2 linked regions of the Homo sapiens genome follow. The protein of the gene in region 1 interacts with the protein of each later gene in a pairwise test. Each region holds a gene or a part of one and is shown on either strand. Other genes may lie near its edges.

Region 1 (8,951 bases):
CCTCAAGCAATCCACCCACCTTGGCCTCCCAAAGTGCTGGGATTACAGGTGTGAGCCACTGCACTCGGCCCATCCACTCTCCCTAGGACGTGATATTCCCTTTCCTGCCGCCTTGCCTGGCAGTGGAGGAGCCCAGAAGTGATCGTGGCCCCCTGGGAGGCATTATCACCTTTTTTTTTTTTTTTTGAGATGGAGTTTCACATTTGTTGCCCAGGCTGGAGTGCAATGGCGCAATCTTGGCTTTCTGCAACCTCTGCCTCCCAGGTACAAACGATTCTCCCACCTCAATCTCCCAAGTAGCTGAGATTACAGGCATGCGCCACCGCGCCCAGCTAATTTTGTATTTTTAGTAGAGACGGGGGTTCACCATGTTGGCCAGGCTGGTTTCGAACTTCTGACCTCAGGTGATCCACCCGCCTCAGCCTCCCAAAGTGCTAGTATTACAGGCGTGAGCCACCGTGCCTGGCTGTCACCTTCTTTCAGGACTCTTGGCTCTCCTTTTGCCGAGACTCCTCAAGAGACTAAGGCAGAGAGTCAGAGGGATACATGTCCAGACTGACAGGCAGATATAGAGAGAGGTGAAGATACAGAAAGACCCACCCAGAGAGATAGCCACGCAGTCAGACACTGAGAGTGGGAGTGTGAGAGAGAGGGACAGAGAGAGAAGGGGTAGACAGAGGAGGCAGAGAAAAAGGAAGAAGAAAAGACATAGAAAGACTCACAGAAAAAAGAGCTAGACGGGTGGAGAGGAGAGACAGAGATAACAAAGGACAGGGTCAGGAGAGGGGAAAGGACACAGATGGGGAGCACACAGGAGGCGCAGGGCCAGACACACTCACAGGCCGAAGCAGAAAGAGGCTCACGAGAACTACACAAGGACAGACAGCCTCAGGACCCAGAGACACTCTCCTGGGAGACGTGGGGGGAGCCAAAGTGCTTGGGGGTCGAGCCCCACTGGGGGTGGCCTCACCAGGGCAATGCTGCTGCCTCCTGTCCCAAAAGCTTAACCAACCGCTGCCGGCATCTGGCCCCCAGCCACCCTCTAGTAAGCCAGCCCTTGGCCACTGGAGCCAGTGGGTCACCCAAGGTGAATGAAAAGTCACCAATAAGGGACAGTGAGAGTGTGACTGGGGTGAAGGTATGGGTGTCACAAGCCATGTGTGTCAGGGTGGGTCTGACCTGGGGTGGGGTTTAGGAGCGCACAACCCTATACACAGACCTCTGGGGGTTAGTGCAGGCGGGCATGCGTACCTGAGTGAGTTTGTGAGTGTCTGTACACGTGTGTGGATCCAGTTCCATTAAGAGCCTCACGATGCTAATGAGGCCAACGTGGCAGGCTGTTCCTCAAATAGCCCAATCAGAAACAATGAGTGAGCAGAGACAGCCACAATAAAGGTTTCATGCCTCTTCTGAACAGACGGTGTGTCCAGGTGCCACAGGGCACTTGACTACAGTCAACACCAGCGTACCATTCATTCCCGCTGGGGATGACCCCCGCCGCCTGGCCAGCTGACCCCACAGTCTCCCCTGTCCCAAGCCCAAACTCCAAACTCATGGGAGAACCCACATGATAGACACATGGGCCCTCCCGGGTGGCAGGCGCAGCTCCCTCTGAGAAGGGCAGCCAGAGGGATGGTGGGGTCCAACCCTGGCTTTCCCCCAGGCTAGCTTCCATCCCTCCTGCTGCTGCGGCCCCATTTAGCTCTCTCCTTGCTCCTGGGGTCCAGTGACCCACACCCTCACCACACACAGGAGAGAAGTAACCTCTCCTCCCCAGCCCTTCCCTCTCAAGCATCACAGGACATTAAAAAAAAAATTGTCCCAGTTTTGTGGTGGATAATGAGGTCAGGAGGCCCACAGGGGAACTGCTTGTTGATGACAACTGACAATCTTCATTTCACCTTGAAACTCCGTCCTGGTCCAGGTAAGCATGTTCTAAGCCCAGTTTTATAGGGGTGCTACTCTACTGGGGGACAGGGAGAGTGGGGAAGGAATTAACCAAATGGCAGCTGAAGTCACAGGCCCAGCCAGGCCCACCTGGAACACTCACAGGGCCTGGGGCAAGGGGACAAATGGCGGCCCACAGACATATGTCTAAATATTTAAAAGTTATAAATCAAGCCAGCAAACTGTGAAATATGTTCTAACCTCTCACCCTGACAAATACACCTTCATTAACAACCTGGAGGACCAGATACAAATTTGGATTTATCTGCCTCCTGAGCTTTACACATCAGAATGACTCTGTGCAGAGGAGACAGCTCCACTCGCACCCTGGCCACCCCCCTTCCTGCTGCCGGGTCCTGTCTGCACCACAAGGGACTCTTGTGCATGTATAAGGACACCCAGCCTCATGTCCTTGCTCCATCCACAGCCCCTGCAAATAGCTGTCCCTTCACTGTCCGTAGGGGTGCACACACTATTGGCATAACCTGTCCTGAGGCAGACAGGCCCAGGGAAGAGGCTGGCATGGGCTGGGAGCCAGATGGTGACCATCTAGGCAGGGACCTCCAGAGTCACAGGTATGGAGAATGTGGTCTTGGAGGGGACTCACAGTCTCATCCCCTCGGCCCTGCTGATGCCTCATCCCACAGGGAGAGGACTGGCAGCAGGAGGGCCAGAGTGGAGCCTTTGAAAGCCCCCAGCTTAGGGCATGGGCACTCCCTCCCTTGCCCAGGTTTAAGGGTGCTACTGAACTCAGCCTTCCCTGGCAGCCTAGAGATCAGGCCAGGGCCTGAAGCTGTCCTTTCACTGGAGGACAGCTTGGACAATCCCCAAACAGGACTTTCAGTCACTCGTATTATTTATCTTCCTGGAAAAATTTAGTGCGGCTTGATCCCAACTCCTGGAGGTGGGAGGGCAGAGCAGTGATGACAAGAGGGCATTTTTTTCAGGTTGGGTCTCCAAGCCAGAGCTTGTTCCACTGAGGCACAGCCCAAGTGAGCTCCTGCTGGTACTGGTCCCTGCCTTGGGCGGGGGCGGGGGGACTCTCTCCCCTCTACAGAGACAAAAGGCAACACAAACAAGGTGACTAAAAGAGGAGGAGGTGAGGGGCCCTGGGCAGCCCAGAGAGGTCCAGAGATCCAGGAACCAGCAGGGGGCAGGTTCCCCCTGGTAGGGGGGCATGCAGTGAAGGGCACTCTTTCTAGCCAAGCTTAGCTAAAAAAAAAAAAAAAAAAACCCTTCCACTCCCCCCTCCCCTGCTCGCTCTCACTCCCTGCAGATCGGCTTTGCTGTCCCACACATGAGGGGACACTGGTACTTTCTGAGCCCTCGCCAGGCTCCAGGCACTGTGCTAAGCGCTCTACATGTGTACCCTCATTTAACCCTTGCAGCCACTCTATGAGGTGGGTTCTATTATTATCCCCATTTTACAGGTGATTAAGTGAACTCAAAGAGGTTAAGAAACTTGTTCAAGGTCACGCAGTAGGTAGAGGTGTCAGAACTCAGCTCTAACTGACCCCAAAGCCCCCACTCTTTCCACTAGAGCACATGGCCTCCCAGAAGCAAGAAGCTGGCACAGACCCAGAAGGGATGAAGGTCGGATATGAGAACGAACTTCTGCCTCTGATGGTTTGTGTGGTGAAATGAGGCAATGGAATGGGGAATCTAGACAGACAAGGAAGCCCCCCTCCCCCCATTGTCACCCGTGTCTGTCCAAAGGCTTGCGATGATCTCAGGAAGGTCCCTGGGGTCCCAGCTGGACCCAGACAGCAATGTCCTGACTTCCCTTTGTTCTATAATCCAGGGTCCTCTGCTCTACTTCAACCCAGCACCAAGACCCAAAGGCTGCCTCTCCTTAGTGGCTCAGAGCTCTGAGCATCACATTCAAGCTGTCAGCCCAGGTCCTCCTCCTCCAGGAAGGCTTCCTCGAGGTCCTGGGAGGCAGGACCCCTTTCCTACAGCCCAAATCCCAACACTGAGGGTGCAAATGCTCCCCTGTCTGCAATAAGGCCACATCTGCGATCACCTTCCCCAGCCGGCTCTGTGACACAGACACAGAAAAGATCTACTGAGTTCCCAGACTTTCCGGGTTCCCTAGGCCATCGGGGTAATCCCCTGCTCACCCCCTTGTACCCAGATGTAAATAAATGATGCAGGTGCCCTGGGGCTCATTAGAAAATCCCAGGCCCCAGCTCAGCTATGCGGCGGCTTTTACCTCATTAGCCCACGGAACAGAAGCCCAGTTTGGGTCAAGCCATCACCCCCTAGGGTGGGGAAGAGGCTGCCCTTGGATGAGGCATGGCGCACTCTCAGTCAACGAGGTTCCTTACTCCGGACCCCCGTCCTCACCATCCCCAACCTGCCCCACTCCAGAAAGCTGCGTGTCTAATGCCCGGCTCTTTCTTTTCCATCCTTTGGAGCCCGCCTGGCATCAGGGATAACCAGCCAGGACCCTCTAACTGCCCCAGAGTTCAGTCCCGCCCAGCAGATGCCCAACGTCGGCGCTCAGAGCCGAGATAGGGATATCCTCACTGTCCCTTGGGGTCCCCCAATTTTGAGGCGAGAGGACCGGACAGGTGGAAGAGGCTGCCTCGTTCTCCCGCGCTGCCCTCGAGGTCCTCGGCGTGGACTAGCCCGCGTCGCCGTCTTACCTGCGGGGCAGAGACGGAGCCCGCCGCGGCCACCTGCTCTCGCCTGGCTGGGAACGCTGCGTGTGGGGCTGGCTGGGAGGGGCGGGGCCCGGCGGGGCAGGGGCGGGGCTGGGAGGGGGAGCCGGGCCGGCCCCTCCCTCGAGGCCCCGCCGGTGGGGTGCGCGGGCTCATTCAGGTGGGAAGTCCCGGGAGAGCATCTGAGCCACAGGGAGGGCCCGGAGCTCGAGTTCTGAAGGCTGGGAAGTTAGGACTCCAGGGGGTGCGGGGGGTGGGTGGGAATTCCCCGCTTCAGACAGCCTCGCCCAGATGCCCTGGAGAGGGTGACTTCATATAAAGACCCCTCACACGAAGAAGAAAGCTCAGAAACCTCTCCTGGCCTGAGTCCCCTTCCATCTGAGCTCTTCGGGCCTGGCAGGGTTGGGTGTGAGACGGGACACTCCTCTAAAGTAAGGGTGCCCTCTCCAGGGCTCAGCTGTGTAGGGGTTTAGGCCGCTGAGGGGGCCATTAGGCAACCAGACCATCTTTATCCTCAGCCCATCTCCCTCCCTGCCACACAGCCCCTCCTCCGCCCCCAGCGCCAGCCCAGGTCCCCCAGCTGTCACTGTTTAGCCCTGGAATGACAGGCGTCCTGACTCCGTGAGTCTAGCCACATTCAAGGCCTTTGAGCTTAGCACCCCTGAGCCCCTGCCCCCTCCCTCTGCCCCCAGTCGCTAATTTTATTGACCTGTAAAAGGCACGTTGCTGGCAGGCAGTATACTAACTGAAGGCAAAGTGGGGAGCGGATGGGCAACTCTCCCCCCGGGAAGGCAGCTGGAGATGGGACAGGAGGGAGGAGGAAGGAGACTCCTGGATCCAGGGCCAAGGACACTTTGAGAGGAGGAAGAGGGGGGCCTTGGGAAAGAGAAGTACACTGTCTATGGGAGATGGTAGCCAAAAAGACGGGAACGGGAATTTCAGCCCTCAATCAGACAAGAGGCCTACAGAAAAAAGAAAATGCTGGGAGAAGACAGGGTGCATTTCTCATCTACCTGGGGACAGAACCAAGAATGTAGCAGGAGGGAAGGAGGTTGGACGGCAGGAAGGACTGCCATCCTGCTCTCAAATCTCTGCCCTAGCCCCCTCCCTTCCTCTTGAAGGTGTCTCCTGCCTGCTGGGCCTTGTACTACAGAAATAGCCCTTTCCCTGATGAAGCAACCTAGATCTTGCCTTTCTTTTTCTTTCTTGTTAAAATGAGAACAGAAAATTTAGGCCTTTGTAATTTTCCCCACCCCCGTGCCTACCTGAGCCCACCCCTCAAACCCTGGATCTCAGCCTTTCCCCAGCCTAGGGGAGATGATCTGAGGGTTAAGGGAAGGTGGAGAGGGGAATATCGGGGTTGGAAGCTATTATGGGGTAGGGGGAGCAGGAAGCCCTCACACTCTTGATGGGCCTCAAGTTTAGACTGTTGATACCCTTTATGAATAAGGCTTAGGAGGGCTATTAAAGAGGAGTGTTTAAAACTTCTTTTATTTTTTTATTTTTGAGATGGAGTCTTACTGTGTTGTCCAGGCTGCAGTGCAGTGGCATGATCTCGGCTCACTGCAAACTCCGTCTCCCAGGTTCAAGTGAGTCTCCTGCCTCAGCCTCCTGAGTAGCTGGAATTACAGGGGCCTGCCACTATGTGAGGCTAATTTTTGTAATTTTTAGTAGAGATGGGGTTTCACCGAAATGGCCAGGCTTGTCTCCAACCCCTGACCCCAGGTGATCTGCCCACCTCGGCCTCCCAAAGTGCTGGGATTACAAGCGTGAGAAAATGCGCCTGGCCTAAAACTTTTAACACTAGGTCAGGCACAGTGGCTCATACCTGTGATCCCAGCACTTTGGGAGGATCACCTGAGCCCAGTAGTTGGAGATCAGCCTAGGCAACATAGTGAGAACTTGTCTGTACACTGCCCCTCTACCCCCCAAAAATTAGGTGTGGTGGTATACATCTGTAGTCCCAGGTACCAGGGAGGTTGAGGTGGGGGGATTGCTTAAGCCTGGGAGGTTGAGGCTGAAGTGAGCCATGATTGTACTACGGTACTCTAGCTTGGGCGACAGAGCGAGTCCCTGTCTCAAAAACAAAATAAGAACAAAAACAAAAAAAAAAAGGCCGGGCCCAGTGGCTCATGCATGTAATCCCAGTACTTTAAGAGGCCGAGGTGGGTGGATCACCTGAGCTCAGGTGTTTGAGACCAGCCTGTTGGGCAACATGGCGAAACCCTGTCTCTACCAAAAATACAAAAATTAGCCAGGCATGGTGGCAGGCACCTGTAATCCCAGCTACTTGGGAGGCTGAGGCAGGAGGATCACTTGAGCCCTGAAGGCAGAGGTTGCAGTGAGCTGAGATCGCGCCACTGCACTCCAGCCTGGGCGACAGAGTGAGACTGTCTCAAAAAAGCCAAACACTTTTAACACTAAAAATTACAAAGCAGGTCATTGGATGGGGAAGGGTGAGAGGTATGGATTTCAATGGGGAACCAGGAAACTTTTGTTGTTCTTTGAAAATTCCACTGGAAGAAACAGGACATTTTGAGGGTGATGGCTATGTTCATTATCTTGATCGTGGAGGATATGCATGTTAAAATGTATCCAGGCCAGGGATGGTGGCTCACGCTTGTAATCTCAGCACTTTGGGAGGCTGAGGCAGGCAGATCGCCTGAGGTCAGGAGTTTGAGAACTACCTGGCCAACATGGTGAAATCCCATCTCTACTAAAAATACAAGAAATTAGCTGGGCATGGTGGCGGGCACCTGTAATCCCAGCTACTTGGGAGGCTGAGGCAGGAGAATCGCTTGAACTCAGGAGGTGGAGGTTGCAGTGAGCCAAGATCGTGTGACTGTACTCCAGCCTGGGCAACAAGAGTGAAACTCCATGTCAAAAAATAAAACAATTTTAAAAAAGTACCCAATTGCACACTATACAAGCAGTTTATTTTCTACCAATTATATTCCAACAAAATTAAGACACCACACATTTTCTATCCCATTTTTTCATTTATTTTTATGAGGAGCCTCAAAAAATAGAAGTGGCCTTGGTAGGGAAGGAATGTCGTGATTCTGAGTACAGTATGGCAAATTCTTTTGCCTCAGTTTCCCTAACTCCATCCAGTGCATATGAAAATGTCTATGTGCGTACAAGGTAGGTCTGGACTAAGCTCTGGCCCTCCGGTTGTTTTCCCATTGCGGGAGCCTAAGCCAGGGTGCCCAGGACTCCTGTGTGGCTGGTGGGCCTGATGCCCACAGCTGATGATTCAGGAAGGAGGGGCCTGGAGTCTGCTGCAGACTCTCCCGCCCCCTACAGCCCAAACCGGGCACTGCAGCAATGAGGTGGTCAGTCCAGGGAGAGGTCCGACAAGTTCTCGGCACAATGCTGCAGGAAGTCAAAGTCAGGCACGGAGAAGGGCACGCGGGACCACTTTTTGGCCTGGATCCGCCCCTGAGGGGTCTCCAGCAGCATGCTGCGGACTTTGAGCACTGGCAGCTTCACTGACTTGTAGATCATCTGCAGACCCCAGACCTGGAGGTGAGACAGAGAGGGTAGGGTCTGGGTCTCTGGCCTCAGACTGGGCTTCTCTCCTCAAGTTGGAATTCCCTGAATACAGGGCCTTTTCCTCCCACCTGAGATGTCACAGACTGTGGGCTCCCTTAGGGAGGGGCTGGACCTCCCTCTTCAGACTGGAGGCCATGGGGTGGGACTGTCTCCCGTGTCCTAGTGAGGGCTCCCTGAGGGCCTCTGAAGACTGGGGCTGAGGACTCTGGGGCCTGGGACGTGGCCTAAGCTCTTACCTCCCCACAGTTCCTGCAGCTGATGACACCCCCAGGCTTCCAGTCCTTGAAGACTTTGTTGATGACCACAGGATCCCTGGAGACATTATAGTAGTTCCTGGAGAGGAAGGGGGGTGGCCACAGCCCTCATTGACCCTCCTCAGCCCCGGATCTCATGCCCTCCTGCCGGCCAAGTCTCTGCCTGGACCTTGGGCCTTCCTGCTGGTTAAGAGGCACAGACTTCCCAGGCCAGGAAATCCAATCTTTGGTGAGTTCTACCTGTGTGGCCTCCATCGCACGTTCCCTTGTGCCCAGGTTCAAGCCTCAGCATCGGTTACCTGGTCTTCACAGTCTCCTTATGGGTCTCTCTGCCTCCATTTTTACTCCCAATCCCAAGCCATCCTTCCACCAACTGCTAGAGGGATCTAAAAATATAAATCTGCCCTGACATTCTGTTCCTTAAAATCTATCCAAGATTCCTAAGAGGAACCTCCTGGATAAAGGCTACACTTTCACACCTGACCTTTCAAATCTTCCACGGGCTAGTCTGTCTTTTTCTAAATCTCATTAT
Region 2 (9,035 bases), on another chromosome or scaffold:
AGATTACTTAAAACCAGATCTTTAATAAAACAGGCAAGTTGTATTGCAAGATAGTAAAACTGGCTCTAATGTAGCAATTAAAATTCAGTGTCTAATGTGGGATCTAACTTATATTGTTTTGTTTAATGTTTGCACCCCCGAAACTGAGGAAAAGTATCACAGTTTTGTACAATTCACAGACTATGGTATGCTAATAAAACTGTATCACTGATTAACATTAGAAAATAATAATGTAATTTCCCATATTAATAGATTAAAGGAGAAAAAATGGTAATTTCAACAGAGACAGAAAATGCATTTGTTAAAATTCCATACCTTTTTATGATTAAAAACTCTTAACAAACATGGTAGAAAATGGCTTCCTTAATTGATTTAGGGCAGTAACTCTCAACCATGAGTGATTTTGTCCTATAGGGAACATCTGGCAATGTTGGGAGACATTTTTGATTATCATAACTATGGGGAGCCTAGGGATACTTCTAAACATCCTACAGTGCACAGGACAGACCTTCACAGCAAAGAAATAATCTGGCTCAAAATGTCAACAGTGCTAAGATTGAGAAAGTCTGGTTAAGAGTATCTTCCCACTTACAAAGTATGCGTGTGTGTGTCTATATATGTATGTATACATGCATGCATACATGTAAAGTTTAATGGTGAATCACTGAAATTGCTCCCTTTTTCAAGAACAAGGTCATGATGTTTTCACTACATCAATACTGTAGCAGAGACATGGTCAGTGCAAAAACTCCAGGAAAAAAAGAAGTGAAAGAAATAGAAGTACACTGAATCATAAATAATTGTGTAAATGAGAGTTTGGCAGGGTTACTGATAGATTATCACTATTGAAAAATCAAGAGCATTACTATACACCAGCTACAATCTATTAGGAAATGTTATTTAAAAAACAGCATTCATTAAAGCAACAAAACTATAGTCTACTAAGAATAAATTTGACAAAATGTGTCACGCTTTTTTATGGAGAAAGAAAACTTTTTTATGGATAGAAGTAAAATAAGACAAATAAATGGAGAGATGTATCATGTTCATGGATAGGAAGATTCAATATTTTAAAATACTGAAATGTCCCAAGTTATTCACACTATTTAATGCAATTCTAATAAAAAAAAGGGCTTTTCACTGAACTAAACAAACTGAATTAAAAAATTTATACACATAAAAGCAAAGACATAAGGATAGATGAGAGACTCCTGAAGATGAACAATGTACTTTAAGATTTCAAGACTCGTTATAAAGTCAAAATAATTACAACTGGGCAAGGTGAACAAATACACCAATGGAACAAAATAGCAGAAAAAAGACCCACACACATGGAAACTTAGTGTTTGGCAGAGGATTAATTTCAAAATAGCAGGAAATAGGTGGATTAGTCGATACATAAATTCAAGATTTAAGATCTAGAAGTGAAAAGTGGCAATACTATAGCATTAAAAATAAAAAATAGCATATATTCTTGTAGTAAAAAACAAAAAACTAAAAAAGAAGAAAAAATCTTGTGCCAGTTTTCAAAGGGAATACTTCCAGTTTTTGCCCATCTAGTATGATACTGACTGTGGGTTTATCATAAATAGCTCTTATTATTTTGAGATACGTTCCATCAATACCTAGTTTATTGAGAGTTTTTAGCATGAAGGGCTGTTGAATTTTGTCGAAGGCCTTTCCTGCATCTATTGAGATTAATCATGTGGTTTTTGTCGTTGGGTCTGTTTATGTGATGGATTATGTTTATTGATTCGTGATGTTGAACCAGCCTTGCATCCCAGGGATGAAGCCAACTTGATTATGGTGGATAAGCTTTTTGATGTGCTGCTGGATTCGGTTTGCCAGTATTTTATTGAGGATTTTTGCATCAATGTTCATCAAGGATATTGGTCTAAAATTCTCTTTTTTTGTTGTGTCTCTGCCAGGCTTTGGTATCAGGATGATGCTGGCCTCATAAAATGAGTTAGGGAGGATTCTCTCTTTATCTATTGATTGAAATAGCTTCAGAAGGAATGGTACCAGCTCCTCTTTGTACCTCTGGTAAAATTCGGCTGTGAATCTGTCTGGTCCTGGAATTTTTTTATTTGGTAGTCTATTAATGATTGCCTCAATTTCAGAGCCTGTTATTGGCCTATTCAGAGATTCAACTTCTTCCTGGTTTAGTCTTGGGAGGGTGTATGTGTCCAGGAATTTATCCATTTCTTCTAGATTTTCTAGTTTATTGGCGTAGAGCCCTCTCTCTTCACTCCTATTCAACACAGTGTTGAAAGTTCTGGCCAGGGCAATCAGGCAGGAGAAAGAAATAAAGGGTATTCAATTAGGAAAAGAGGAAGTCAAATTGTCCCTCTTTGCAGATGACATGATTGTATATTTAGAAAACCCCATCATCTCAGCCCAAAATCTCCTTAAGCTGATAAGCAACTTCAGCAAAGTCTCAGGATACAAAATCGATGTGCAAAAATCACAAGCATTCCTATACACAATAACAGACAAACAGAGAGCCAAACCATGGGTGAACGCCCATTCACAATTGCTTCAAAGAGAATAAAATACCTAGGAATCCAACTTACAAGGGATGTGAAGGACCTCTTCAAGGAGAACTACAAACCACTGCTCAACGAAATAAAAGAGGACACAAACAAATGGGAGAACATTCCGTGCTCATGGATAGGAAGAATCAATATTGTGAAAATGGCCATACTGCCCAAGGTAATTTATAGATTCAATGCCATCCCCATCAAGCTACCAATGACTTTCTTCACAGAATTGGAAGAAACTACTTTAAAGTTCATATGGAACCAAAAAAGAGCCCACATTGCCAAGACAATCTTAAGCAAAAAGAACAAAGCTGGAGGCATCACGCTAGCTGACTTCAAACTATACTACAAGGCTACAGTAACCAAAACAGCATAGTACTGGTACCAAAACAGAGATATAGACCAACAGAACAGAGGCCTCAGAAATAACACTACACATCTACAACCATCTGATATTTGACAAACCTGACAAAAACAAGAAATGGGGAAAGGATTCCCTATTTAATAAATGGTGCTAGGAAAACTGGCTAGCCATATGTAGAAAGCTGAAACTGGATCCCTTCCTTACACCTTATACAAAAATTAATTCAAGATAGATTAAAGACTTCAAATGTTAGACCCAAAACCATAAAAACCCTAGGAGAAAACCTAGGCAATACCATTCAGGATATAGGCATGGGCAAGGACTTCATGTCTAAAACACCAAAAGCCATGGCCACAAATCCAAAATTGACAAATGGGATCTAATTAAACTAAAGAGCTTCTGCACAGCAAAAGAAACTGCCATCAGAGTGAACAGGCAACCTACAGAATGGGAGAAAATTTTTGCAATCTACCCATCTGACAAAGGGCTAATATCCAGAATCTACTAAGAACTTAAACAAACTTACAAGAAAAAAATCAAACAACCCCATCAAAAAGTGGGTGAAGGATATTAACAGACACTTCTTAAAAGAAGACATTTATGCAGCCAAAAGACACATGAAAAAATGCTCATCATCACTGGCCATCAGAGAAATGCAAATCAAAACCACAGTGAGATACCATCTCACATCAGTTAGAATGGCGATCATTAAAAAGTCAGGAAACAACAGGTGCTGGAGGGGATATGGAGAAATAGGAGCACTTTTACACTGTTGGTGGGAGTGTAAACTAGTTCAACCATTGTGGAAGTCAGTGTGGCGATTTCTCAAGGATCTAGAACTAGAAATACCATTTGACCCAGCCATCCCATTACTGGGTATATACCCATAGGATTATAAATCATGCTGCTATAAAGAAACATGTAAACGTATGTTTACTGCGGCACTATTCACAATAGCAAAGACTTGGAACCAACCCAAATGCCCATCAATGATAGAGTGGATTAAGAAAATGTGGCACATATACACAATGGAATACTATGCAGCCATAAAAAGGATGAGTTCGTGTGCTTTGCAGGGATATGGATGAAGCTGGAAACCATCATTCTGAGCAAGCTATTGCAAGGACAGAAAACCAAACACCATATGGTCTCACTCATAGGTGGGAATTGAACAATGAGAACACTTGGACAGAGGATGGGGACCATCACACACCAGGGCCTGTTGTGGGGTGGGGGGAGGGGGGAGGGATAGCATTAGGAGATGTACCTAATGTAAATGACGAGTTAACAGGTACAGCACACCAACATGGCACATGTATACATATGTAACAAACCTGCACGTTGTGCACATGTACCCTAGAACTTAAAGTATATAAAAAAAAGAAATGCAAAAAATAAAAAATAAAAACCACTAAAGCAGTACTATATGTCATTTATGAATACATATATTTGTAGTAAAAATATATAAAATGAATAGGAAAGATATTCTGCTTACTTTTGAACAGGAAAGAGGGTAAGGAAGTGGGGGTAAGGAGAATTGACCTGAAGCTGTCTTACTTTACTCCCCATTTTAAGAACTTAAGTAAATGTGGCAAAATGTTGATGTCTATTTAATTTGGTTGATGTGTGTTATTATTTGTAATTATCTGTGGTTAAGATATTTCAGAAATATAACAAACATTAAAAAATTGATAGTAATAGATGGAAATCCTTTTTTAAATGAAATTACTTACAGGCCAAGGCGGTGGGACCGAAGTTACCTCTGGAGTATGAAAATAAGCAACACCATTATGGTAAGTATAAGGATATCCAGTTGAAGTTGTTAGATACATTGTTCCAGCTGCTGGCATTATACTAGAACCTAAAGCAAAGATTAAATAATAATAATTGAAATGTTCAATTTAACTGTTAAAAATGTAGTTTCTAAACACTTCAGAAAAATATTTATCTTAATATACCTATGTAGCTATGGTAAAAATTGAATGTCACAGATATTTTTAAAAAATTCCTTATGTCAAAGTATCTTTGAAGCCTGTATTTTTAAACTCAATACCTTAAAGCTTTTAGTTTAAGATGATTAAAAGAAAAGAAAAACAATACGAATAAGAAATACCAAAAATGTATCAATTCAGATTCCAACACCAGTATGCTACACAAAGCTGAACAATTTAGACTATCATCAGCGAAGTAATTATTTGTACAAATATAAATTATGTATAATTTAAAGTTACTTCAAGACAACATACACTGTAGTGAAGTTCCTAAGGTCTTGGCTAGACCTTTTATTTCTGAAAGTCCAAAGATGATGGAGGCAGTAAAGTTGGAGAAGATTCTACTTTCCTGAAGACATTTTGGTTCCACCCTACTAATTCTTTGGATATCCTACCAGCAAACATTCGTTCATGCTATGGCTGTCTTTTATCTCTCTTTTCTATGATCTATTCTCTATCTAGTCTCCCTTTGCTACAACTGCTGCTGTTGCAAACATGACCGCAAGTCTTCATGTGGCTAGTCTGGGGTCCCCAACTCTTTTCCCGGGCCAAGTTATATAAACCCCCACCACAAACCAAAAAACAGTAAATAATATACATAGATATATATATATTTTTTGTCATTGAGGAGACTTTAAAAGTTAAATTAGCCAAATTAGATTAGGTCTTAACCAGCAAGGTTATATAAATTAGTGAAACTGACAATTCTTCCACCTATACCAGTGCTTCTCAAAATTTCCCATAAATTAGAATCACTTAAATTGTTTTCTAAAATGCAAATTCCAGGGACTTATCTTCAGAGATTTTGAGTCAGTAAATCTGGGACAGGGCCTAAGAATTTGCATTTTGACAGCTTCCAATGAAATGACACTGTCTGCAAACCACACTTCAAATAGCATGGGCCTACCACTTTAAATAATACTATTGCTCCTCAGCTTTTATATTTTCACTGCATTTGATCTAGTATTGTTATTATTTATTTTAATGGTTCTTAATTAGATCCTTTTGAGAATTTGATGAAAATCAGGGACCTTTTCCTCAGATATATATACAGTCAAACACAATTTTACACACAATTTTGGAGGTCCATGGATTCCCCCCAAAAGATATTCCACTATTATTCAAAGATAATGATAATGGTTCATTATTCAATAATGGTTCATTATTCAAAGAAAATGAACCATGCTTTACCTGCTAAATAAATAAATTTTCAGTGCATACTATTTCAAGGCATTGAACAGGGCCCTAGTGATACAGCAAAAAATAAAAAAATTAGACATGAGATGGTCTGTATCCTCAAAGAAGTTAGGTCTGGTAGTGAAGATAGTCATTAGTTGATTACACAATTAATTAATTAAATACAATTTTGATAAATACATGAGGCATTATAGGGTACGATACTGAACATTTCAATTATTATGTATACAAAACATATATAAAATTTCTCTCTATATACATATATATGGAAAATTTGTGATGAAATGATGTTCAGCTAAGCTCTAAAGAATGAATTGGATGGCAAAGTACATTCTAGGTAAAGAAAACAGTATATTAGATTCTGAGAACAGGAGTATAGAATGTTCTGGAACTGAAAGAAGGCTACATGGCTAAAGCATGGAAAGAAAAGGGAAGAATACCTCAAAATAAGCTGAGCATAAGACAATAAGAGGTGCACTTTTGAAAGATCACTCTGGCTGCCTTGTGAATGATGGATTGGAAGGTAGAAAGATTGGATTCAGAGAGACCACTTAGGATGTTTTTCCAGGAATTAAGGTAAACAAAGTGGTTAGTTGGGACTCGGGTGTTGGTAATGGAGATGGAAAGAAATGACAGATCTAAGAAAAAACTAAGATAAGAATCCCTTATTTGTAAATGTACTTTTAACACCTATTTTTCTTCGCAGAAAAGTCAAAAGAACTTTGGAGTCAAACAGTCCTGCATTTGAAGGCTAGTGCTACCACTCACCATTAGGCTATTTAACCCCATACTTCTTAAAGTTGGATAAGGGATGGATGGTATACCAGGAGATATGAAAAAGCAGAGGCTGAACATAGTAATCTTCCTACAGAATCAGTTTTATTCAATTGTTTTTGGGAAATATTTTTATATTCAAATAAACAATATGATATTATGGAACAGAATGCAAATTATACATGATGTTTTTGCATAAATCATGAGACTTTAAAGAAAATTTGCAATTCCAGTATGCTGCAGTGGGTTAGGAACCACAACATGCCAAGATTAACTCTCCTCTACCTTTAGGAGTATTTCAGCAGAAACATTTTTAAAACAATGACTTTATCTTTTTGGGATTGAATTTTCTATTTACAAAAATAGAGATAACAATACATCATGGGATTCTATGAAGATTAAATGAAAACTCATAACATTGACCCTTGCACTAAGTAGTTTTGAAAAAACTATTTGTATATGTGAAAGCATTCAGCATAGTGCTGATTTATTTTCTATTTCAGCAACTGGTAGATCATACTATGAGCATTACTATTTAGTACATATTGCTGGTGATAATGGGCTAACGGACCGTTACTATATGTTCTAGCTTAACCTTTGCAAGTAACAACAGTAGATTGAAAATATTCAGCATTCTGCCATATTTAGTGCATTCCATTTTGTATTAACCTACTGAGGATACTTTGATTGTCTCCTAAATTAACAAATACTAAGTCAAAATTAAACTTAATATACATCAATCTCTTTTTTGTTGTAGTTGTGGCAACTGTATTAACCAAATATCTATTATTTCTAAGTCAAAAGCATAACAGTCCAAATGAATACAATCTATTAATTTGTTAACAGATTATATATAATAACCTAATGTTTTAAACATTCCCGTAGACACTAGGATGTGGCTAAGGGAAAATAAGTTAGTTATAAATTTTACATCACATTTCTCCTTCTAGCCAAAGACTGTTAGGAATTTTAATAAATATTAAAGGTAAAAAGTTAACTATAAAGATGCCTAACTTAATAAGTAGAAAGAGTGAGGAAAGATAGAATTGAAAGCATTAGAGAAATTTGAGGAAGGTAGATACATAATTTAGCCAATTCCTAAAGCTTTAGGGATTGTCCCCCTGAAAATTATGACACACCTGGCTGGGTTACAGTACACAGCATGCAGCGAGTTTCTGATATTAGTTCTATGTTTTCACTTTCAATATTTTTACTCTGATTAATTTTAAATTAGTTTCTAATTAAAATTTTTCTCATTAGTAAGTCTAAATTATTAAATTACTTCTAATTACTTTTGCTATATTAAATGATATTTTCATCACGAAAGATTTTTTTTCCTTTAATGATGTAACTACATGGAATATACTTAAGCATCTTTATGTATATAAATTTTTTCCCAGCCAAAAAAATTGAGATATATTATTTTGTGGCAAAAATATTCAGTTTTTCCACCAACTTTGCTAAAATAACTTTATTAGATGAAAGAAACATGATCTTTTAATAAAGTTCTATAAAAAGTCTTATATTTCAAAAAAGAACCATGCAAAAATATTTAAAAATACATTAGTTCTCAATACATACGAGGGATCCCTACTTGTTGTTTTCTTATTGCTGGACCAATGTTCAGCTTCTTATCCTTATAATTAAGTTTTTCAGCCTAAAATAAAGAAAAAAGAAATTATTTTATTATTTTAGCACTATTATTTATAAAATCAATAAGGAAAAACTAGTTAGAAAGAATTTCAAAAATTCAGACTATAATATTCTTTCAAAGCAGCAAGGAATAGTGGGAAAGAGCCGTCTTCAGACTGAAATAGATCTGGGTCTGACCGCAATTCCCCATTTTCTCCATTTGTAATACAGTCAATCCTCATTACTCATGGATTCTGTATTTGTGAATTTGCCTACTTGCTAAAATTTACTTGTAATCCTAAAATTAATATTTGTGGCAATTTTGAGGTTATTAGTGGACACGTGAAGAGCGGCGGAAAATTTGAGTAGCCTGATGCGCATGCTCCCAGTTGAGGTCAAATAAGGCGATATTCTTTCTTCTTGTTCCAGTGCTCATACTCTAAGAGAGAGCTTTCTATTTAGTGCCATGTTTTCTCCATTTTTGTGCTTTTTGTTGGTGATTTGGCTATTTAAAATGGCCCCCATGTGTATTGTTGA

Evidence for each region.
Region 2: the proteins of ZNF385C (region 1) and BOLL interact in a two-hybrid assay, tested with the Homo sapiens proteins (2 studies listed by BioGRID).

What each region holds. Positions count from the first base shown.
Region 1 is NC_000017.11:42,093,815-42,102,765, forward strand, and holds the start of ZNF385C (zinc finger protein 385C), read right to left. Parts: upstream 4,660-8,951; 5' UTR 4,596-4,659; intron 1-4,595. Other genes in the region: ATP-dependent RNA helicase DHX58, read right to left, coding at 7,947-8,132, 8,402-8,498.
Region 2 is NC_000002.12:197,767,218-197,776,252, forward strand, and holds part of BOLL (protein boule-like), read right to left. Parts: intron 8,524-9,035; coding exon 8,448-8,523; intron 4,766-8,447; coding exon 4,638-4,765; intron 1-4,637. UniProt on the Homo sapiens protein: Probable RNA-binding protein, which may be required during spermatogenesis. May act by binding to the 3'-UTR of mRNAs and regulating their translation.